Regions from separate parts of the Homo sapiens genome. Here region 2 is linked to region 1. A link means that fine-mapping ties the variant in region 1 to the plasma level of a protein whose gene starts in the linked region. Region 1 holds a variant in brackets. A gene starts in the other region. All regions are shown on their forward strands.

Region 1 (12,026 bases):
CCTCCTTTGTTTTTATTATTAAGGTGAAACTCACACGGCATAAAATTAACCTTTGTTTTTTTTCCTTTTTTTTTTTTTGAGACTGAGTCTCGCTGTATTGCCCAGGCTGGAGTGCAGTGGCGCGATCTCGGCTCACTGCAACCTCTGCCTCCCAGGTTCAAGCGATTCTCCTGCCTCAGCCTCTCAAGTAGCTGGGACCACAGGCTCGTGCCACGACACCTGGCCAATTATTGTATTTTTAGTAGAGACAGGGTTTTGCTATGTTGGCCAGGCTGGTCTCAAACTCCTGACCTCAAGTGATCCATCTGCTTCAGCTTCCCAAAGTGCTGGGATTACAGGTATGAGCCACCATGCCCAGACCCTTCTTTTTTTGAGAGAGAGAGAGAGACACAGACAGACAGAGTCTTTGTCACCCAGGCTGGAGTGTAGTGACTAGATCTCAGCTTACCACAACCTCCACCGCCCGCCTCAGCCTCCTGAGTAGCTGGGACTACAGGCACACGCCACCATACCCTGCTAATTTTTGTATTTTTTGTACAGAAAGGGTCTTTCTATGTTGCCTAGGCTGGTCTTGAACTCCTGGCCTCAAGGGATCCTCCTGCCTTGACCTCTCAAATTCATTTTCTTCTGAGGGCTTCTATTCCATGCAAAACTTCTATTAAGTAAATCTGTATCCTCTCCTGTTAACCTGTTTTTGTTTGTTTTGTTTTCTGAGACAGTCTTGCTCTGTCACCCGGGCTAGAACACAGTGGCACAATCTCAGCTCACTGCGACCTCCGCCTCCAGGGTTCAAGCAATTCTCCTGCCTCAGCCTCCCGAGTAGCTGGGATAACAGGCACCAGCCAGCACGCCCAGCTAATTTTTTGTATTTTTAGTAGAGATGGGGTTTCACCATGTTGGCCAGGCTGGTCTCAAACTCCTGACCTCGTGATTTGTCGACCTCGTGATTTGCCCGCCTCGGCCTCCCAAAGTGCTGGGATTACAGGCGTGAGCCACTGTGCCATGCCTGGCCCTATTTTTTTTTTTTTGGTAGGGGGAGATGGAGTTTCCTCTTGTTGCCCAGGCTGGAGTACAGTGGTACAATCTTGGCTCACCACAACCTCCGCTTCCTGGGTTCAAGCAATTTCCTGCCTCAGCCTCCCAAGTAGCTGAGATTACAGGTGCCCACCATGACACCTGGCTAATTTTTGTATTTTTAGTAGAGACAGGGTTTCACCATGTTGGTCAGGCTGGTCTCGAACTCCCGACCTCAGGTGATCCAGCTGCCTTGGCCTCCAAAAGTGCTGGAATTACAGGCGTGAGCCACCACGCCCTGCCTGTTAACCCATTTTATGTCAACTTAATAATTCTCAGGCCTAGAGGGATCCTAAGAGAACAGAGGTGAATTTTTGCTGCCGGACCTGCTGCTATGAACTTTAATCTATGAGTTTTTTTTTTTTTCTCGAGTTAGTATCTTGCTCTGCTGCCCAGGTTGGAGTGCAGTGGCAAGATCAGGGCTCACTGCAGCCTCAACCTTCTGGCCTCAAGCATTCCACCTAGTTCAGCCTCCTGAGTAGCTGGGACTACAGGCAGGCACCACCACACCCAAATAATTTTTGTATTTCTTGTAGAGATGAGGTCTCACTATGTTCCCAGGCTGGTCTCAAATTTTCGGGCTGAAGTCATCCACCCACCTTGGCGTCTCAAAGTGCTGGGATTACAGGCGTGAACCATCACGCCCAACCCTTTTTCCTTTTTAAGATACAGCAGGGTCTCACTCTGTTGCCCTGGCTGGAGCACAGTGGTACAATAATAGCTCACTCCAGCCTTGACCTCCGGGACTCAAGCAATCCTCCCATCTCAGCCTCCCAACTAGCTAGGATTAAACATGTGAGCCACCATGCCCCGCTTCCATCTCTTTTTCATTTTGTTTTGTTTTTTGTACAGAATATTGCTCTGTTGCCCAGGTTGGAGTGCAGTGGCATGATCTCTGCTCACTGCAACCTTCTCCCAGGTTCAAGCGATTCTCCTGCCTCAGCCACCCGTGTAGCTGGGATTACAGGCACCCGCCACCACACCCGGCTAAATTTTTCATTTTTACAAGAGACCGGGTTTCACCATGTTGGCCAGGGTGGTCTTGAACTCCTGACCTCAAGGGATCTGCCCGCTTCAACCTCCCAAAGTGTTGGGATTACAGGCGTGAGCCACCGCACCCAACTTTTCATCTGTTTTCTGATTCTTCCTTAGCTCCAAAACATCTAAGGTTTGGCTGCATTCACTCCTCTCCAGCCCACAGACGCCCAACTGGGCCAATTCCCAAATTCATCATTCTAGCCCAAACCCTAGGGTCCAGTGCCTTCTCAGCCTCTGCCACAAGGGGTCCTCGCAGGCCGCTCCAGTGTTGCAGGTCCCAATCTGGACTCCTAGGGGTTTCCCACCCAAGCCTTGTCCGAGCGTCCTCTCCCTCTCAGTTAGCACCATCTTCCCAGGCTCTGCTCTGACAGTTCTGAGGCATCCACGCCTCCTCCCACCTGCATCCAATGTGTCTGCCAATCCTACAGCCCCCATCGCCTTTTCCTTCAAAACAGACCTAGAAGCCAGTTATCACTGACCACCTGCACTTGCCAGCTAGGTCCAGCCCCTTCCTGACTTCTGGGGATCAGTGCAGTTGTCCCCTCCCTGGTCTCCCTGCAGGTTCTGTTCTCCCCACTGCAACCAGAAACACCTTCTCTTTTTTTTTTTTTTTTTTTTTTTGAGACAGAGTTTTGCTCTTGTTGCCCAGGCTGGAGTGCAATGGTGCAATCTTGGCTCACTGCAACCTCCGCCTCCCGGGTTCAAGCGATTCTCCTGCCTCAGCCTCCCTAGTAACTGGGATTACAGGTGTCTGCCACCACGCCCGGCTAATTTTTTGTATTTTTAGTAAAGACGGGGTTTCACTATGTTGGTCAGGCTGGTCTCGAACTCCTGACCTCAGGTGACCCACCCACCTCAGCCTCCCAAAGTGCTGGAATTACAGGCGTGAACCACCACGCCCAGCTCTTTCGTTTTCTTTTGAGACAGAGTCTCGCTCTGTCGCCCTGGCTGGAGTACAATGGCATGACCTCGGCTCACTGCAGCCTCTTGCCTCCCAGGTTCAAGCGATTCTCCTGCCTCAGCCTCCTGAGTAGCTGGAATTACAGGCATGCACCACCATGCCTGGCTAGTTTTGTACTTTTAGTAGACCGGGTTCGACCATGTTGGCCAGGCTGGTCTCGACCTCTCAAAGTGCTGGGATTACAGGAGTGAATCTCCGCACCAGCTTTTTTTTTTTTTTTTTTTTTTTTTTGAGACAGGAACTTGCTGTCACCCAGGCTGGAGTGCATTGGCGGATTTCGGCTCACTGCAGCCTCTGCCTCCCAGGTTCAAGCAATTCTTCTGCCTCAGCCTCCTGAGTAGCTAGGATTACAGGCATGCACTACACCACATCCAGCTAATTTTTTTTTTTTTTTTTTTTAAAGACAGTTTCCCTCTTGTTACCCAGGCTGGAGTACAATGACAAGATCTCGGCTCACTGCAACCTCTGCCTCCTGGGTTCAAGCAGTTCTCTAGCATCAGTCTCCCAAGTAGCTGGGATTACAGGCGCCTGCCACCACACCCAGCTAATTTTTGTATTTTTAGGAGAGACAGGGTTTCACCATGTTGGCCAGGATGGTCTAGAACTCCTGACCTCAGGTGATCTGCCCACCTCAGCCTCCCAAAGTGCTGGGACTACAGGCATGAACCAGTGCACCCAGCTGCTAATTTATTTTAGTAGAGATGGGGTTTTGCCATGTTGTCCAGGCTGGTCTCGAACTCCAGTCCTCAGGCGATCCACCTGCCTTGATCTCCCAAAGTCCTGAGATTACAAATGTGAGCCACCGGGCTCAGCCCTATTTTTTCAGGGCTATTTTGTTCATGGTTAGAACCAGGAACAGCACTGATACATAGTAGCATTCAACAGATATATTTTATTGTTGTTTTCTAGAGACAGGATCTTGCTCCATTGCCCAGGCTGGAGTGCAATGGGTGATCATAGCTCACTGTAGCCTCCATCTCCCAGGCTCAAGCAATCCTCCCACCTCAGCCTCCTAAGTAGCTGCAACTACAGAAACTTCAGGTATGTGCCACCATGCCCAGCTATTTTTTTTGTTTGTTTTTTAGTATAAATGAGATCTCACTATATTGCCCAGGCTGATCTCCAACACCTGGGTTCAAACAGTCCTCATGCCTCAGCCTCCCAGAGTGCTTGGATAACAAGTGTGAGCCGCTGCACCTGACCATCAACAAGTATCTTTTTTAACCAGCTTTTACCAGTCGGGGTCTGGCCATGTTGACCAATCTGTATGAAACATTTTTTTGTTTTGTTTTAAATTAGCTGGGCACAGTGGCGCAGACCTGTAGTCCCAGCTAATCAGGAGGCTGAGGCGGGAAGATCTCTTAAGCCTGGGAGGTTGAGGCTACAGTGAGCTATAATTCTATAACTGCACCACCGTACTCCAGCTTGGGAGCCAAAGCAAGACCCTGTCTCTAAGGAAGAAAAAAATGAAAAAAAGAGTTTCTGAGCTATCATACTAGCTTCAGTTTGCTAGGGTGGCCATAACAAAATACCACAGCTTGGGTAGGTTAAAAACAGAAACTTACATTTCTGGAGGCTGACGTCCAAGATTAAGATGTCATCAGGGTTGGTTTCTGCTTTTCATTTTTGAAACGGAGTCTTGCTCTGCTACCTAGGCTGGAGTGCAGTGGCACCATCTTGGTTGCACTGCAACCTCCACCTCCCAGATTCAAGCAATTCTCGTGCCTCAGCTTCCAGAGTAGCCCCAGGTTCAAGCAATTCTCGTCCCTCAGCTTCTCGAGTAGCTGGGATTACAGGCGCCCACCACCACGCCCGGCTAATTTTTCTATTTTTAGTAGAGATGGGGTTTTGCCGTATTTCCGGGATGGTCTCTAAATCCTGACCTCAAATGATCACGCCTGGGATTACATGCGTGAGCCACCGCACCCGGCCCAGAGCTGGTTTCTACTGAGCCCCCTTGCTTTGTCTTACAGAGCCGCGGCCGCCTCCTGTGTGCCCTCACATGCTCTCTTCTCTGCATGCACCCTTCGTATTTCTTAGTGTCCATATTTCTTCTTCTTGTAGGGACACCAGGCAGATTGGATGAGGACCCGATGTAGCAGTGTATCCAGAATTGGTGGGGTCTTGGTCTCACTGACTTCAAGAATGAAGCCACAGACCCTCGCGGTGAATGTTACAGTTCTTAAAGGCAGCGTGTCCACAGTTTGTTCCTTCTGATGTTCGGATGTGTTCGTAGTTTCCTCCTTCTGGTGGGTTCGTGGTCTTTCCGGCTCAGGAGTGTAGCTACAGACCTTTTGCAGTGAGTGTTACAGCTCATAAAGGCAGTGTGGACCCAAACAGCGAGCAGCAGTAAGACTTATTGCAAAGAGAAAAAGAACAAAGCAACCACAGCATGAAAGACAACCCAAGTTGCCACTGCTAGCTGGGGCAACCTGCTTTTATTCCCTTATCTGGCCCCACCCACATCCTGCTGATTGGTCCATTTTACAGAGAGCTGACCGGTCTGTTTTACAGAGAGCTGATTGGCCCATTTTGACAGGGTGCTGATTGGTGTGTTTACAATCCCCGAGCTAGACACAAAAGTTCTCCAAGTCCCCACAGAGCACTGATTGGTGCATTTACAAACCTTGAGCTAGACACAGGGTGCTGACTGGTGTATTTACAAACCTTGAGCTAGACACAGAGTGCTGATTGGTGTATTTACAATCCCTTAGCCAGACATAAAGGTTCTCCAAGTCCCCACCAGATTAGCTAGATACAGAGTGCTGATTGGTGCAATTACAAACCCTGAGCTAGACACAGGGTGCTGATTGATGCATTTACAATCCCTCAGCTAGACATAAAGGCTCTCCAAGTCCCCACTAGACTCAGGAGCCCAGCTGGCTTCAGGCAGTGGAACCCGCAGGGGGTCAGAGGTAGAGCTGCCCACCAGTCCCTTGCCACACGCCTGGACTCCTCAGCCCTCTTGGCTTGGGCAGTCGATGGGACCAGGCGTCGTGGAGCAGTGGGTGGCGCTCATGAGGGAGGCTCGGGCGGAGCAGGAGCCCAGGGCAGGGGGAAGCCTCAGGCATGGGGGGCTGCAGGTCCTGAGCCCTGCCCAGCCGGGAGGCAGCTGAAGCCCCGCGAGAATTCGAGTGCAGCGCTGGCGGGCCGGCACTGCTGGGGGACCCGGCACACCCTCCACAGCTGCTGGCCCGGGTGCTAAGCCCCTCAACTGCCTGGGGCCGGTGGCACCGGCTGTCCGCTCTGAGTGCGGGGGCCCACGCCCACCCGGAACTCGCGCTGTCCCACGAGCCCCTTGCGCACAGCCCGGGTTCCCGCCCGCGCCTCTCCCTCCACACCTTTAGCAAGCAGAAGGAGCTGGCTCCAGCCTCGGCCAGCCCAGAGAGGGACTCCCACAGTGCGGTGGTGGGCTGAAGAGCTCCTCAAGCGCGGCCAGAGTGGACGCGGAGGCCCAGGAGGCACCGAGAGCAAGCGAGGGCTGCCAGCACGCTGTCACCTCTCAGCAGCTGCTTTTTTTTTTTTTTTTTTTTTTTTTTTGAGACAGGGCCTTGCTTTGTCTCCCAGGCTGGAGTGTAGTGGCGCTAACAGCTCAGTGCAGCCTCCTGGAATCAAGCAATCTTCCCACCTCAGCCTCCTGAGTAGCTGGGACCACGGGTGCACACCACCAAGTCCTGCTAATTAAAAAAATTTTTTTTCTTTTCTTCTTTTTGAGACGGAGTTTCCCTCTTGTTGCCCAGGCTGGAGTGCAATGGTACAATCTCGGCTCACTGCAACCTCCGCCTCTCAGATTCAAGCAAGTCTCCTGCCTCAGCCTCCCAAGTAGCTGGGATTACAGGCATGTGTCACCATGCCCACCTAATTTTGTATTTTTAGTAGAGACGGGTTTCACTATGTTGGTCAAGCTGGTCTTGAACTCCCGACCTCAGGTGATCCACCTGCCTCAGCCTCCCAAAGTGCTGGGATTACAGGCGTGAGCCACCACACTTAGGCTTTTTTTTTTTTTTTTTGAAACAGACTCTCACTCTTTTGCCCAGGCTGGAGTGCAGTGGTGGGATCTTTGGCTCACTACAACCTCTGCCTCCTGTTCTCAAGTATTTCTCGTGCCTCAGCCTCCTGAGTAGCTGGGATTCAAGTGTGCACCACCACACCGAGCTAATTTTTTGTATTTTTAGTAGAGGCAGGCTCTCCCTATGTTGCCCAGGCTGGTTTCAAACTGCTGGCCTTGTGCAATCCACCCACCTCAGCCTCCTGAAGTTCTGGGATGACAAGTGTGAGCCACCACACCTGGCCTTAATCACCCCTTTAAAGACCCTGTATCCGGCCTGGCATGGTGGCTCACGCCTGTAATCCCAGCACTTTGGGAGGCCAAGGTGGGTGGATCACCTGAGGTCAAGAGTTCGAGACTAGCCTGGCCAACATAGTGAAACTCTGTCTCTACTAAAAATACAAAAATTAGCTGGGCGTGGTGGTGAGCGCCTGTAATCCCAGCTACTTGGGAGGCTGAGGCAGGAAAATGACTTGAACCCGGGAGGCGGAGGTTGCAGTGAGCCGAGATCGCGCCACTGTACTCCAGCCTGGTGGCAGAGCAAGACTCTGTCTCAAAAAAAAAAAAAAAGAAATTAACCGCTGCTCACAGCTGTGCTAGCTTACAGGAACAAAGGCCAAGTGCCAATAACCACAAATGAGCCACAAGATGAGAGCTGACCTCAGCAGTGCTCCATAGGCCTGATTCCTCACTCCAC[T/A]GGCATAATAAAATCTCCACAGCCAGGGTGCACTGGCTCCCAGCTGTCATCCAAGCACTTTGGGAGGGTGAGAAAGGCGGCTGGTCTCAAACTCCTGACTTCAAGTGATCCCCCACACCTCAGCCTCCCAAAGTGCTGAGATTACAGGCGTAAGCCACCACACCCGGACTATAACATCCATTCTTTTAGGGAGCCCCAGAACCTGTGAAATTAATCTCTGCTCTGGCCGGGCATGGTGGCTCACACCTGTAATCCCAGCACTTTGGGAGGCTGAGGCGGGTGGATCACGAGGTCAGGACATCGAGACCAGCCTGGCCAACATGGTGAAACCTGGTGTCTACTAAAGATACAAAAAAGTAGCCAGGCATGGTGGTGTGTGCCTGTAATCCTAGCTATTTAGGAGGCTGAGGCAGGAGAAATGCTTGAACCTGGGAGGCAGAGGTTGCAGTGAGCCGAGATCACACCATTGCACTCCAGCCTGGGCAACAGGGCGAGACTCTGTCTCAAAAAAAAAGAAATTAACCCCTGCTCACAGCTGTGCTAGTTTACAGGCATGAAGGCCGGATGCCATTAACCACAACTGAGCCACAAGATGAGAGCTGACCTCAGCAGTGCTCCATCTGCCTGAATCCTCACTCCATGGGCAGAGTAAAATCTCCACAGCCAGGGCACAATGGCTCCAAGCTGTCATCCCAGCATTTTGGGAGTGTGAGGAGGGAGGATTGCTTAAGTCAGAGAGTTCAAGACCACCCTGGGCAACATGGTAAGACCCTCTCTTGGCCTGTAATCCCAGCACTTCAGGAGGCCAAGGTGGGCAGATCACGAGGTCAGGAGTTTGAGACCACCCTGGCCAACATGGTGAAACCCTGTCTCTACTAAAAATACAAAAAAAAAAAAAATTAGCCGGGTGTGGTGGCACGCGCCTGTACTACTCAGGAGGCTGAGGCAGGAGAATTGCTTGAACCCGAGAGTCAGAAGTTGCAGTGAGCTGAGATTGTGCCACTGCACTCCAGCCTGAGCGACACAGCGAGACTCAGTCTCAGAAAAAAAAAAAAAAAGACCCTCTCTCTACAAAAAATAATGTAAAAATTAGCCGGGCGTGGTGATGCATGCCTGTAGTCCCACCTACTTGGGAAGCTGAGGCAGGAGGATTGCTTGAGCTCAGAAGGTCGAGGCTGCAGTGAGCTACGATCGCACCACTGTACTTCAGCCTGAGCAACAGAGTGAGGTGCTGTTTCAAAAAAAAAAAAAAAAAGCTGGGTGCGGTGGGTCACACCTATAATCCCAGCTACTCAGGAGGCTAAGGCAGGAGAATTGCTTGAACCTGGGAGGCGGAGGTGGCAGTGAGCTGAGATCGCCCCACTGCACTCCAGCCTGGGTGACTGATCGAGACTCTGTCTCAAAAACAGAAAAACCAAAAAAAAAAAGTCTTCAGTGGGGAGAGGTGCACTTTGCTAAGCACATATAATGCCAGGTACAAAAGAAAAGAAAGGCTGAACACTTCAGTGCCCCCTAGAAAGCCCCACCTCTTTCCAGGAATCCCCACCCCCAGTCTGCATCTACATGCCCTAGGAAACTTTAAAACTCCCCTCATCACACCTGCAGGGAGTAGGCACTTTGAGCAGGAGTTCCTCCCTTTCTCCATTCATTGATTGACGAATAAAGTTTCTATCTTGCTTTACTGAACCTGGTCTTGTTCTGTTGGTGCAAATGGCAACCCGCAGAGAAAGGACTCATTAGTCTCAAACAATCCCCTTAAGAGTGGGTAACAGCGGACACCATGGCTCACACCTGTGATCCCAGTGCTTTGGGAGGCTAGGGTGGGAGGATCACTTGAGCTGAGGAGTTAAGAGACCAGCCTGGGCAACGTAGAAAGACCTCATCTCTAAAAAAAAAAAAAAAAAAAAAAAAAGGCAGAGGGGAGGGGGGCGGGCGTGGTGTTTCACGCCTGTAACCCCTGCACTTTGGGAGGCCAAGGCAGGCAAATCACCTGAGGTCGGGAGTTTGAGACCAGCCTGACCAACATGGAGAAGCCCCATCTCTACTAAAAATACAAAAAATTAGCCAGGCATGATGGCACATGCCTATAATCCCAGCTACTCGGGAGGCTGAGGCAGGAGAATCACTTGAACCCAGGAGGCAAAGTTTGCCGAGATGGAGCCATTGCACTCCAGCCTGGGCAACAAGAGGGAAACTCCACCAAAAAAAAAAAAAAAAAAAAAAAAAAAAAAAAAAAAAGGCGAGGGGGAGGAGGGAGACTTTAAAAAAAGAAAAATAAAAAAAGTTTTTTTTGGCCAGGCACTGTGGCTCACGCCTGTAATCCCAGTACTTTGGAAGGCCGAGGTGAGCGGATTGCCTGAGGTCAGGAGTTCGAGACCAGTCTGGCCAACATGGTGAAACCCCGTGTCTACTACAAATAGAAAACAAATTCGCCTGATGTGTTAGTGCAGGCCTGTAGTCCCAGGTACTCAGGAGGCTGAGACGGGAGAATCGCTTGAACCCGGGAGGCAGAGGTTGCAGTGAGCCGAGATTGCACCACTGCACTCCAGCCAGGTAGACAGAGCAAGGCTCCGTCTCAAAAATAAATAAATAAATAAATAAATAAATAAATAATGTTTTTGAGATAGTCTCAAAAGGGTGTTCAGGCCCTTATGTGTTCCCCCCACTCACACACACACACACACACACACACACACACACACACACACACACAGGATCTGGGCTGACCTGGACTCCACTGAATCCACAGAATACAGCATCGGCAACATTGACCCAGCAGTCTCTCTGCTTTGTGTGTTGGGGAACCCCAAGTCACCGTGGCAGGAGTGTGGCCACCTTGCTCAGGAGTCCACGTGGAGAGGCCACATGGAGAGGTCAGCTATCCCAGACATGACAGACCTTCTGGATGGGACATCCAGCCAGCCTGGCCCCCAGATGATGGCAGCCACTGTCACATGGAACAAATGAACCCCCAGTGAGCCTGGTCAGCCCAGAGCCAGGAGAGAGGATGCGACAACAGGTGTTTGGAGCCAGTGGGCATGGGGCGGTTTGCTCCACTGAGAACAAGAATGCATGACAGTCAGGACGGTCCAGAGCCTAGAGGTCCACTTAGGTGGCATGTGGCACCCACACCAGCCTCACAGCCGGGCACACATATCCCTGACATACCCTGTTGTCCGCCGAGGCTGACTCGTGACAGAGAAAACGTTAGAGAAAAAACCTGGCTGGATGCAGTGGCTCACACCTGTAATCCCAACGCTGTGGGGGGCCGAGGTGGGAGAATTCCTTGAGATCAGGTGTTGGAGGCCAGCCTGGGCAACATAGACCAACCCTGACTTTACAAAAATAAAAAATTAGCTGGGTGTGATACATGTGACTGTAATCCCAAAACTCGGGAGACTGAGGCAGGAGGATTTTTCTTTTTTTTGAGATGGAGTCTTGCTCTTGTCACCCAGGCTGGAGTGCAATGGCAGGATCTTGGCTCTCTGCAACCTCTGCCTCCCAGGTTCAAGCAATTCTCTTGCCTCAGCCTCCCAAGTAGCTGGGATTACAGGCGCCTGCCACCACACCCGGCTAATATTTCTATTTTTAGTAGAGATGTGGTTTCACCATGTTGGCCAGGCTGGTCTCGAACTCCTCACCTCAGGTGATCCGCCCACCTTGGCCTCCCAAAGTGCTGGGATTACAGGCATGAGCCACCGTGCCCAGCCCAGGCAGATCTCTTGATCCCAGTTCAAGGCTGCAGTGAGCTGTGATCACACTACTGCACTCCAACCTGGGCAACAGGTCCATCTGAGTCCATCTCTAACGGTCCCAGGGAGGTCACTCCCCTGCAAGGAGGCTACTGTGGCCCCCAACATCCCATTCAGAGATTCAGAAGCTGAGGATAAGGGAGGAACTTTGCCCTGTCACCCAGAAGTCAGGGTGTGAATTAACTTTACCGGTCACCAACCTTTTTGGCAGCAGGGACTGGTTTCATGGAAGACAATTTTTCCACGGACCAGGGGTGGGGATGGTTTCAGGATGATTCAAGTACATTACTTGTTTTTGTTTGTTTTTTGAGACAGTCTTGCTGTGACACGCAGGCTGGAATGCAGTGGCCTGATCACGGCTCACTGCAGCCTGGACCTCCCAGGCTCAAGCAATCCTCCTACTTCAGCCTCCCAAGTAGCTGAGACTACAAGTGCACACCACCACCCACAGCTAGT
Region 2 (12,026 bases), not on the chromosome of region 1:
TGGCCAATATTGTGAAACCTCGTCTCTACTAAAAATACAAAAATTAGCCGGGCAAGGTGGTGCTTGCCTGTAGTCCCAGCTACTCAGGAGGCTGAGGCAGAAGAATGGCTTGAACCCAGGAGATGGAGGTTGCAGTGAGCCAAGATTGCACCACTGCACTCCAGCCTGGGCGACAAGAGTGAGACAGTGTCTCAAAAAAAAAAAAAAAAAAAAAAAGATCTTGGAGACTTTATTTCTTCCCAGCTGGGTTCCCATCATTGGTGGACCCTGGAGGGAACCTTCCCCTGTCAGCCCTGCATTGGCAGGGGCCTTCCCAGTCCTTCCCAGTGCCTGGTCCCAGTTCCCTGCATCCAGACCCTGCAAGGAATGTCTTTGTCAACCCTGGGTTTAAAGGTGGCCTCCCTGATTCCCTCCATTCAGACCACGGAGGGAACATTTTGTGGACCCTGGGCTTACCGGCAGGGGTGGAGGTGTAATCCGGTCAAACTCAGCTGATTCGTAGATTTTGTGAGGGTGCTTATGCTAAGAGTACTCTCAAAGGGTCACCTGGGTAAGGGAAGTGCAATTATAGGGGGTGCTTAGTACTAACGGGACAGTCTCTAGCCAACCACCTTCAGGAACCCTTTGGCTTACATGTTTAAAAACCACATGGAAAGTTCAAAGACATGCTAGCTTTTTTGGGACGCTAGCTGGCTACATATTATAGCCCGTTTTTGTGCACATTTTTAAACTGGTGGGCAAATTACATCAAGGAAAATTCAGAGCTCAAATGGTCAACCTGCAGTTACAGAGTTAACATGTAGAGTCTTCTACATTCTCTATTTTATTTTTCTACCTGCTTTAAGTCTGTTGACTTTTCTACTGGTGTTGAGATAAAACTCTTTACAGTGTTACTAATTCAAGGCTACCTGGAGATTTTTTCTATATAGTTCAGCCAGGTTCCAGCTAAAATATAAGCATTAAAAATTTAACCCTAAACTCATTGTTTTTTCAAGTGTGTGTGTGTGTGTGCGTGTGTATATGGATATGGGGTCTTGCTATGTTGCCCAGGCTGGTTTCCAACGTCTGGGCTCAAGCAGTCCTCCTGCCTCAGCCTCTGAAAGTGCTGGGATTACAGGCATGAGCCACCATGCCTGGCCCCATTTAAAACTTAAAAAAAAAAAAAAAGATTTTAAAAATCAAACTGCCATGGAAACTACCCAAAATTTTGGTTCACAGCCTCCATTAGATTACCTATTAGGATAAATAAAGTTTAGCCATGTAAACAAGTTCCAGTTTTGTCAAAAATAATTTGGACCCAACCATCTTTTATAAACCGATGACTCTGTAGTACTGAGAGATGATGCGTGCTGGCAGCCCTCACAGCCCTCGCTCGCTCTCAGTGCCTCCTCGGCCTCGGCGCCCATTCTGGCCACGCTTGAGGAGCCCTTCAGCCCCGCTGCTGCACCGTGGGAGCCCTTCTCTGGGCTGGCTGAGGCCGGAGCCGGCTCCCTCAGCCTGCGGGGAGGTGTGGAGGGAGAGGCACGGGCAGGAACCAGGGCTGTGCGCGGCGCTTGCGGGCCAGCTAGAGTTAAGGGTGGGCGTGAGCTTGGCGGGCCCGCACTCGGAGAAGCCAGCCGGCCGGCCCCGCTGGCCACGGGCAGTGAGGGGCTTAGCACCGGGCCAGCCGCTGCGGAGAGTGCGCCAGGTTCCCCAGCAGTGCCGGCCCACCGGCGCTGCGCTCAATTTCTCCCTGGACCTTAGCTGCCTCCCCGTGGGGCAGGGCTCAGGACCTGCAGCCTGCCATGCCTGAGTCTCCTCCCTGCCGCTGTGGGCTCCGGCACAGCCTAAGCCTCCCCAACGAGCGCCGCCCCCTGCTCCCCAGCGCCCGGTCACATCAACTGCCCAAGGGCTGAGGAGTGCGGGAGCATGAGAGCAGGACTGGCAGGCAGCTCCACCTGTCCTGCCAGTATGAGCTCCAGTAGGTGAAGCCAGCTGGGCTCCTGAGTCTAGTGGGGATTTGGAGAACCTTTATGTCTAGCTAAGGGATTGTAAATACACCAATCAGCACTCTATATGTAGCTCAAGGTTCGTAAACACACCAATCAGCACCCTGTGTCTAGCTCAAGTTTTGTAAATGCACCAATCTGCGCTCTGTGTCTAGCTGATCTTGTGGGGACTTGGAGAACATTTATGTCTAGCTAAGGGATAGTGAATACACCAATCGACACTCTATATCTAGCTCAAGGTATGTAAATGCACCAATCAGCACCCTGTGTCTAGCTCAGGGTTTGTAAATACACCAATTAGCACTCTGTATCTAGCTAATCTAGTGGGGTCCTGGAGAACTTTTGTGTCTAGCACAGGGATTGTAAACACACCAATCAGCACCCTGTCAAAACGGACCAATCAGCACTCTGTAAAACAGACCAATCCGTTCTCTGTAAAATGGACCAATCAGCAGTATGTGGGTGGGGCCAGATAAGAGAATAAAAGCAGGCTGCCCGACTCAGCTGTGGTAACTCGCTCGGTTTTTTTTCCACGCAGTTGAAGTTTTGTTTTTTTTTTTTTTGTTTTGAGTCGGAGTCTCACTCTGTCGCCCAGGCTGGAGTGCAGTGGCGGCATCTCGGCTCACTGCAAGCTCCGCTTCCCGGGTTCACGCCATTCTCCTGCCTCAGCCTCCCAAGTAGCTGGGACTACAGGCGCCCGCCACTACGCCCGGCTAGTTTTTTGTATTTTTAGTAGAGACGGGGTTTCACCGTTTTAGCCGGGATGGTCTCGATCGCAGTTGAAGTTTTATTCTTTCACTGTTTGCAATAACTCTTACTGCTGCTCACTTTTTGGGTGTACACTGCGTTTATAAGCTGTAACACTCACTGGGAAGGTCTATGGCTTCACTGCTGCAACCAGCGAGACCACGAACCCACCAAAAGGAAAAAAACTCCGAAAACATCCGAGCATCAGAAGGAACAAACTCCGGACATGCCGTCTTTAAGAACTGTAACACTCACCTTGAAGGTTGGCAGCTTCATTCTTGAAGTCAGTGAGACCAAGAACCCACCAATTCCGGACACAGTACTATGCCAGGATTAGAGCTCTAAGGTAAAACCCGTAAAAAAAAAAATTATTTTTTCACTCTGTTTAGTAGGTTGGAGTGCAGTGGTAACAATCTCCGGTCGCTGCAACCTCTGCTTCCCGGGTTTAGGTGATTCTCGTGCCTCAGGTTCCTGAGTAGCTGGGATTAAAGGTGTTTGCTACCACGCCTGGCTCATTTTTGTATTTTTAGTAGAAGTTGGGTTTTGCCATGCTGGCCAGGCTGGTATTGAACTCCTTACCTTAAGTGACCCCCGCACCTCGGCCTCCCAAAGTGTTAGGGTTACAGGCATGAACCACCACAACCGGCCTAAAGCTGTAAGATTTTTATTTGTGTATATATGTGGTTAGATGTGTTTACATATGTTGTATATTGTGTCTACATGGTACCAAGTTGACTTAAAAATAAATACTCGTAAATTAAGAAAGCCCAAATATATTTTTCAAGTTTATGTGACTTAAGTAAAATTTTTTTTTTTTTTTTTTTTTTTTTTTTTGAGATGGAGTCCTGCTCTGTCATCCAGGCTAGAGTGCAGTGGTGCGATCTTGGCTCACTGCAACCTCCGTTTCCTGGGTTCGAAGCGATTCTCCTATCTCAGCCTCCTGAGTAGCTGGGGTTACAGGCATGTGCCACCATGACCAGCTACTTTTTGTATTTTTAGTTAGAGATGGGATTTTTACTATGTTGGCCAGGCTGGGCTCAAACTCCTGACAAGTGATCCACTTGCCTCAGCATCCCAAAGTGCTGGGATTACAGGCATGAGTCACAGCGTCTGGCCTGACTCAAGTAAATCTTTAATAAATAAACTGGTTTTAAAAGTTATTGGTAAAATAAAAATGTCTTCAAAATTGTTAACATACATTTTTGCCTTGGTTTATTGGTCAAAGTTTTTTTACATGTGTCTCTGCTAGATACTTTAAGGGTGTTGGGGGTTTGGCATAAAGATTGTAAAACTATAAACCCAGCCGAAACCAAAATGACCTTTGTGTGTGATTTTTTGATAAATATGACTAATTTAATATAACTAGTTTAATAGGAAACAGCGAAATCTTCCGAGTTATCAACAAAATAAGTACGTATTTTAAGATTCTTAGGTGAACATCTGATAGTCACAGGCTGTAAAAATAACAAATTTAATGATTACCTTTGTCTAATATCTCAGTTCTCATAACTAGTCTAAGGCAATGGTGAAAAATATAGGCTGGGCGCGGTGGCTCACGCCTGTAATCCCAGCACTTTGGGAGGCTGAGGTGGGCGGATCACCTGAGGTTGGGAGATCAAGACCAGCCTGACCAACATGGAGAAACCCCGTCTCTACTAAAAATACAAAAATTAGCCAGGCATGGTGGTACATGCCTGTAATCACAGCTACTCGGGAGGCTGAGGCGGGGGAATCGCTTGAACCTGGCAGGCAGAGGTTGCGGTGAGCCGAGATTGAGCCATTGCACTCCAGCCTGGGCAATAAGAGAAATTCCATCTCAAAACAAAAAGAAAATGAAAGCAAAAATAAATGAATATATATGATAAATGCTTATAAATACAATTGTCATGTAATTTAAAATATTTATGTTAAATTAAATAACTGCTCATTAAATGCCTGGGTCATTTTCAATTTAAAAAATACGTTACAGGGCCAGGCTAGGTGGCTCACGCCTTTAATCCCAGCACTTTGGGAGGCAGAGACAGGCAGATAGCCTGATCTCAGGAGTTTGAGACCACCCTGGGCAAAATGGTGAAAACCCCATCTCTACTAAAACATAAAAAAATTAGCCAGGTGTGGTGGCACAAGCCTATAGTCCCAGCTACTTGGGAGGATGAGGTGCAAGAATTGCTTGAGCCAGGGAGATGGAGGTTGCAGTGTCAAGTTGAGGTTGTCAGGTTTTTTATCTTCAGCCTCTCGGCTCCTTCAGACTTCAGGGGGTAGGTTTGCATGTAGCTGCTCACTGCAGAACAGTCTTATATAACATAGATAAAGAACTCTTGGCCAGGCGTGGTGGTTCACACCTGTAATCCCAACACTTTGGGAAGCTGAGGTGTGAGCATCGCTTGAACTCGGGAGTTCGAGACCAGCCTGGGCAAAAAAGCGAGGTCCTGTCTCTATTAAATATAAAAATAAGGCCAGGTGTGGTGGCTCATGCCTGTAATCCCAGCACTTTGGGAGGCCGAGGCCGGTGGATCACGAGGTCAGGAGATGGAGACCATCCTGGCTAACACGGTGAAACCCCGTCTCTACTAAAACTACAAAAAATTAGCCAGGAGTGGTGGCGGGCGCCTGTAGTCCCAGCTATTCAGGAGGCTGAGGCAGGAGAATGGCGTGAACCCGGAGGCAGAGCTTGCAGTGAGCCGAGATCGCGTCACTGCACTCCAGCCTGGGTGACAGAGCGCGAGACTCCATCTCAAAAACAAAACAAAAAAAAATTGGGGATGGGCTCCATTAAATGGTTCTGTCTTGACATCTTTTATGCGATAAAAGCTGGAATAGTAGGGGTATGGAAAGCTGGGAGCTGGCTGGATCGATCTCTCTCTCTTAAGGTAATCTCAGGGTTTATCCATGTGGATTACCTTTGTGGATCAGTTTGTAGCTGCCTCAAGGCAGTTGTACTGCTTACATGACAGCTCAGTACTCCAGCTCAAGTGTTCAAGTGAGCAAGGTGGAAGTTGCATTTTCTTTTCTGACCTCGAGTTATATATCATCACTTCTGCATTCTGCTACTGACAAGGATGTCACAAACCTGCCTAGATTCAAAGGGAGGGGAATTAGACTCATCTCTTCATGGATGAATGACAAAATTACAGAAAACCATGTGGAACAGCTGGTATTGTTAGACAGCTTTGAAAACACAATCTGACACATCCTCTTTATCTCTCTTAATGCTTTTTGCCAACGATTATTTGATCTAATTTTTTTTTTTTTAAGATGGAGTCTCAGTCCGTCGCCCAGGCTGGAGTGCAGTGGTGCGATCTCAGCTCACAGCAGCGTTCGCCTCCTGGGTTCCAGCGATTCTCCTGCCTCAGCCCCGAGTAGCTGGGATTGCAGGTGTGAACCACCATGTTTGGCTCATTTTTGTATTTTTAATACAGACAGGGTTTCACTATGTTGGCCAGGCTAGTCTCAAACTCTTGCCCCTCAAGTGATCTGCCTGCCTCAGCCTCCCAAAGTGCTGGGATTACAGGCGTAAGCCACTGCGCCCAGCCTCATTCATGTCTTTTTATGGCTTAATGGCTCACTTAGTTTTATCACTGTTTTTATATATGCAATATTTCATTGTATAGATGTACCGCAATTTGTTTATGCATTCATTGAAGGATACCTTGGCTGCTTCCGGTTTTTAGCAGTTACAAATAAAGTTATGAACTTTTTTTTTTTTTTTCCAGACACAGTCTCGCTCTGTTTCCCAGGCTGGAGTGCAGTGGCCCAATCTCAGCTCACTACAATCTCTGCTTCCCAGGTTCAAGTGATTCTCGTGCCTCAGCCTCCCGAATAGCTGGGATTACAGGTACGTGCCACCACACCCAGCTAATTTTTGTATTTTTAGTAGAGACGGAGTTTCACCATGTTGATCAGGTTGGTCTTGTTCTCCTGACCTTGTGATCCACCCGCCTCGGCCTCCCAAAGTGCTGGGATTACAGGTGTGAACCACCGCACCTGGCCCCTTCTTTTCTTTTCTTTTTTTTCTGATGTGGTTTGGCTCTGTGTCCCCACCCAAATCTCATCTTGAATTGTAATTTCCACTTGAGGGAGACACCTGGTGGGAGGTGACTGGATCATGGAGGTGGTTTCCCCCATGCTGTTCTCATGATAGAGAGGGAGTTCTCACAAGAGCTATGGTTTTAAGTGTGGCACTTTCTCAATCTCTCTACTGCCACCTTGTGAAGAAGGTGCTTGCTTCCCCTTTGCTTTCTGCCACGATTGCAAGTTTTCTGAGGCCTCCCCAGCCATGCACAACTGTGAGTCAATTAAACCTCTTTATAAATTACCGAATTGCAGGTATTTCTTTATAGCAGTGTGAAAACTAATACTTTTTTTTTTTTGACACAAGAGTTCCACCCGCCTTGGCCTCCCAACGTGCTGCGATTACAGGTGTGAACCACCATGTCCGGCCTCTTTTTTCTTTTATTTTCTTTTCCTTTTTTTCTTTTCTTTTGATAAAGATAGGGGCTCACTATGTTGCCCAGGCTTGTCTCAAACTCCTGGCCTCAAGTGATCCTGCCACTTTGGCCTCCCAAAGTGCTGAGGTTACTGCACCCAGACAATTATTTCTTTGATGGACTATGCTTTAGGTGTTGTATCTAAAAAGGCATCACCTCTTCTTGAAGTTTTATAGTTTTGTGTTTCATAGTTAGGTCTATTTCAAGTTAATTTTTTGTGAAAGGTGTATGTTTAGGTTGATTTGTTTTGCATATAGACATCCAATTGTTCCTGCACCATTTGATGAAATGTCTTACTATTACACTAATAGTGTCTTGCTATTTATCTTAACTTGAAAGCAATTTGTGTGTGTGTGTGTGTGAGAAGGAGTCTCGCTCTGTTGTCCAGGCTGGAGTGCAGTGGCGTAATCTTGGCTCACTGCAACCTCTACCTCCTGGGTTCAAGCAATTCTCCAGCCTCAGACTCCCAAGTAGCTGGGACTACAGGAGCCCACCACCAGGCGCAGCTAATTTTTGTATTTTTAGTAGAGACTGGGTTTCGCCACGTTGGTCAGGCTGGTCTCGAACTCCTGACCTCAGGTGATCCACCCACCTCGGCCTCCCAAAGGGCTGGGATTTCAGGCATGAGCCACTGCGCCCAGCCACTTGAAAGTAATTTTAAACTCACAGGCCCCCTAAAAGGTTCTTGGAGACTACCAGTCATCCAGTGACCACAGTTGGGAACCAATGCTCTAGTTGATGGGATTTTTTTATGATTTTATCTTTGCTTTCTCCTCCTCTTCCTCCTTTTCTTTCTTTCTGTTTTTGTTTGTTTTTTGTTTTTTGTTTCTCCGAGATGGGGTCTTGCTCTGTCACCCAGGCTGGAGTGCAGTGGCATGATCTTGGCTCACTGCAACCTCTGGCCCCCAGGTTCAAGCAATTCTCCCGCCTCAACCTCCCAAGTAGCTGGGACCACAGGCACATGCCACCATGCCCGGCTAATTTTTGTATTTTTAGTAGAGACTGGATTTCACCCTGTTGGTCAGGCTGGTCTCGAACTCCTGACCTCAGGTGATCCACCCGCCTCGGCCTCCCAAAGTGCTGGGATTACAGGTGTGAGCCACTGTGCCTGGCCTTAAAATATGATTTTAATATATATACACTTTTAATCACTAAAATAGATATTTCATATAGAACTAGAGTTGTGTATTTGTTATATTCATTCTTCTCATGCCATCTTCATGCATACAATTTTATTTTTCTCTTTTGGGTTAATTTTTAGGCTAGTCCTCGCCAAGTCAGCCTAAAACCACCAGAAACAAACCCAGTTGTTGACTTATTCCAATGAGGGAAACCACCCAGCAGAGGAACTATAGTGATCTGGCTGAACAAAGGGAAAGGTTATTAAAGAATTGAAGGGAAGGGTGGAGTTAGGTGAAGTGTAAAGCAAGCAGTGTTTTGAGGCAAGCAGGCTCCAAGTATCACAGGGCTGTGTATGAAGGGTCCGCTTCAGGTCTGGACGGCAAAGTGGACCTAGAGTCTTGTTTCCTTGGAAACTACAAAGTTAAGAAAAATGTGGAATGCTGAGTCCAGAAACACCTTATCTGAGACTGCTTGTCTGTGTCAAAATGACATAGCTCTTTTAGGCAACAGTGGGATGTTCTGTTCTTACTAATAGGATATCAAACAGCAAATTTCTGATTGCTTGTGCTTTTAGGGGGAAAAATATAAATAATCAGTAAAAAAAGTAGTAGTCACCCAAATAGCTGTAGCATGCATGGCCTTGATAGAAATGTTTCCTGTTGGCCAGGCGCGCTGGCTCATGCCTGTAATCCCAATACTTCGGGAGGCTGAGGCAGGCAGATCACTTGAGGTCAGGAGTCCGAGACCAACCTGGCCAACAGGGTGAAACCCTGTCTCTACTAAAAATACAAAAATTAGCTGGGGGTGGTGGCGCATGCCTGTGATGTCAGCTACTCAAGAGGTTGAGGCAGGAGAATCGCTTGAACCCGGGAGGAGGGTGTAGTGAGCCGAGATCATGCCATTGCACTCCAGCCTGGGCAACGAGTGAGACCCTGTCTCAAAAAAAATAAATAAATAAGAAAAAATAAGAAATGTTTCCTGTTGATGTTGCAGCTGGCTTGCAGCTGGCTTTAGAGGTCCCTGTTATCCCAGTCTAGTGGGAGCACAGGCAGACTTTTACTTTCTCATTCCAAGCTAGTTTTCACCACAAATAGAAATCTTGATCTGGCCAGGTGCAGTGGTTCATGCCTGTAATCCCAGCTCTTTGGGAGGCTGAGACAGGAGGATCGCTTGAGCCCAGGAGTTCAAAAATAAAAAAAATAGAAATCCTGATCTAAATGATGTAATCATTTTTGTTTTTCACATTCCCTGACCACATGACCTGAAATAGCACTACCCCTGACCAGTCACTCTATTTCTTTTTTTAATTTTACTTTATTTTTAGGACAGGGTCTCCTTCTGTCGCCCAGACTGGAGTGCAGTGGTCTGATCTCAGCTCACTGCAACCTCAGCCTCCTGGGCTCAAGTGATCCTCCCACTTGTAGCCTCTAGATTAGCTGAGACTTACAGGCACACACCACCATCCCTGGCATTTTTTGGTTTTGTTTGTTTTTTAGAATCAGGGTCTCACCATCTTGCCTAGACTGGTCTCAAACTTGTGGGCTCAAGCAATCCTCCTGCCTTGGCTTCCCAAAGTGCTGGGATTACAGGCATGAGCCACCAGTATTTCTAATATGTATGGGAAATATGCTGTCTTCCTATTCCTACTCCCCCACCCTCTAGCACTGAGTCCAGGTAGGTAGGCAGGGGGGTGTCTCCCTCCTTTACTTCGACACCCTAACTACCTTGGGGATCAGAAGTGACTCTCTGGAAGGATGCTGCTGCTTCTCACCAGAGGCTGACGATAACGAAGGCTATCCTCCATGGCCACCTCCTCCAGGCTGCCTTCCTGGAAATAGGAATCATAATAGTTGTTACTGGAAACAGGCAGAGGGTTGGGGGAGCCAAGGCAGTCCCACCCAGGACCAAGGTGGCTCCATTGCACACACTTCACCATGACTCCCCTGAAGGTCCAAACGTGCGGTTCTGCGGAAGTTGGGCTCCCCACTGGCCTCCCTCCTTCCTCAGAACCTCCAGGGGTGCTCCTCCTAGTGGCCACATCCAGCCTTTCTGACTGGACAACCTATCATTTAAAATTTTCAAGTAGTTCCGTAAACAGACACACGTTGCTGTATTTATTTATGTCAAGGGCTTGGTTTGTGATAAATCAGGCTCAAAAAGATTGTCTTAAAAGAGTGAACCTTGGCAATTTACCATAAAATAATTGCAATGCAGATTGTGCATGGAAATGATTGGAGATATTTTAAGGTCATAGTGTCTTCACAAATTGAGCTGAAAGGGAACTGTTAGGATGATCTTGCCTAACCCTCTCTTCTCACACAGGAAGAACTATTTTAAACTCGAGAGGTTAAGTGACCTGGCCAAAGTCACACAGCCACCACTAGTTAACTCGTATACATTGATTCTCCTGTGGGGCTGGGCAGATGAGGAATCTTTTGTTCTCTTCCCTGTTTGCAGAGATTTTTTTTGAGGTTACTTTCCGAGTTCTGGCAAGTACCCCTGCTTCTGGTAGCTTTGTGTCTCGATTCAATCTCATTCTTTTTATTTTATTTTATTTTTGAGACAGGGTCTCACTTTGTCACCCAAGCTGGAGTGCAGTGGTGTAATCTTGGCTCACTGTAGCCTCCACCTCTTGGGTTCAAGCGATCCTCCTGCCTCAGCCCCCCAAGTAGCTGGGATTACAGACGTCTGCCACCACGCCAGGCTAATTTATGGTTTTTTGTATGTGTTTTTTGTGTTTTTGTAGAGACAGTGTTTCCCCATGTTGCCCAGGCTGGTCTCCAACTCCTGAGCTCAAGTGATCTGCCCGCCTCAGCCTTTCAAAGTGCTAGGATTACAGGTGTGAGCCACCGTGCCCGGACTTAATCCCATTCTTTAACTTGTTTTGTTTTGTCCTCTCCAGGAGGCTCCCAGCCCTTTCGGATTGGTTGAGAAAAGTGGCCTGGCTGGTCTGGGGCCAGCGGCACCCACCCTCCCCTCAATTGCCCAACTCCCCCCCCCCACCGAACTGCCCAACTCCCCCTCCCCAACTGCCCAACTCCCCCACCCCCACAATCCCCTCCCGCCACAACTGAGGGAGGCGGTGCTGAAAAACAGCTGACTCCAGCAATGCTGCTCACGTGACCACTGCAGCTGCAGCTCCCGTTCCACTCCTTGTCCTGGGCTAGGTGGGCACTACCAGGGGCTCCTTTGGTAAGGAGTACCGGGTAGGCACCCGGTCCTGCCAATCCACCACTGGAACAGCTGGGGGGACAGCAGACAGGCACGGTCGGACAGACTTGACAGATCAGGCATCAGGCCCTCTGCGCTGGTCCCGGGCTCTTTAAGCAGGAACGTGAATGGCCTCAAGATGTCTCACATGGTCCCACTAGCCCTCCTCCTCCCTTTGTTCCCTACCTCCAGGAGGGCTGCTCTGCCCTTCCTTCCTCTGTTCTTTGGCCTTATGTTCCCCGCCACCACAGACCTTCCCCCGCCCCACCCCTCTGCAGACTTAGCCGTGCATTGCAGGCATGGAGGATTAATCAGTGACAGGAAGCTGCGTCTCTCGGAGCGGTGACCAGCTGTGGTCAGGAGAGCCTCAGCAGGGCCAGCCCCAGGAGTCTTTCCCGATTCTTGCTCACTGCTCACCCACCTGCTGCTGCCATGAGGCACCTTGGGGCCTTCCTCTTCCTTCTGGGGGTCC

Which allele goes with the higher level. Alleles are on the strand shown, and positions count from the first base shown. The strength of an association depends on the size of the effect and on how common the allele is.
As copies of A replace T in region 1, the plasma level of the protein whose gene starts at base 11,829 in region 2 goes down (weak association).

The links. PIP is the posterior inclusion probability: the model's chance that the variant is causal. The UK Biobank Pharma Proteomics Project read protein levels with antibody pairs (Olink). The fine-mapping took linkage between variants from a reference panel, not from the people measured, so its PIPs are less certain.
Region 2: it holds the start of TCN2, and the variant in region 1 is fine-mapped to the plasma level of the TCN2 protein (UK Biobank, PIP above 0.99).

What each region holds. Positions count from the first base shown.
Region 1 is chr19:8,289,168-8,301,193 of GRCh38, forward strand. No RefSeq gene overlaps it. Among named protein-coding and RNA genes, the nearest start is that of CD320, 13 kb to the right of the region's middle. RefSeq lists a silencer at 5,405-5,605. The variant T/A (reference allele first, on the strand shown) is at 7,819.
Region 2 is chr22:30,595,346-30,607,371 of GRCh38, forward strand. TCN2 (transcobalamin 2) reads left to right here and starts at 11,829. Exons shown (of 9, transcript NM_000355.4): 1 at 11,829-12,026. The coding sequence starts at 11,987. It also overlaps a transcript of PES1 not described here. RefSeq lists enhancers at 11,615-12,026, 11,697-11,991.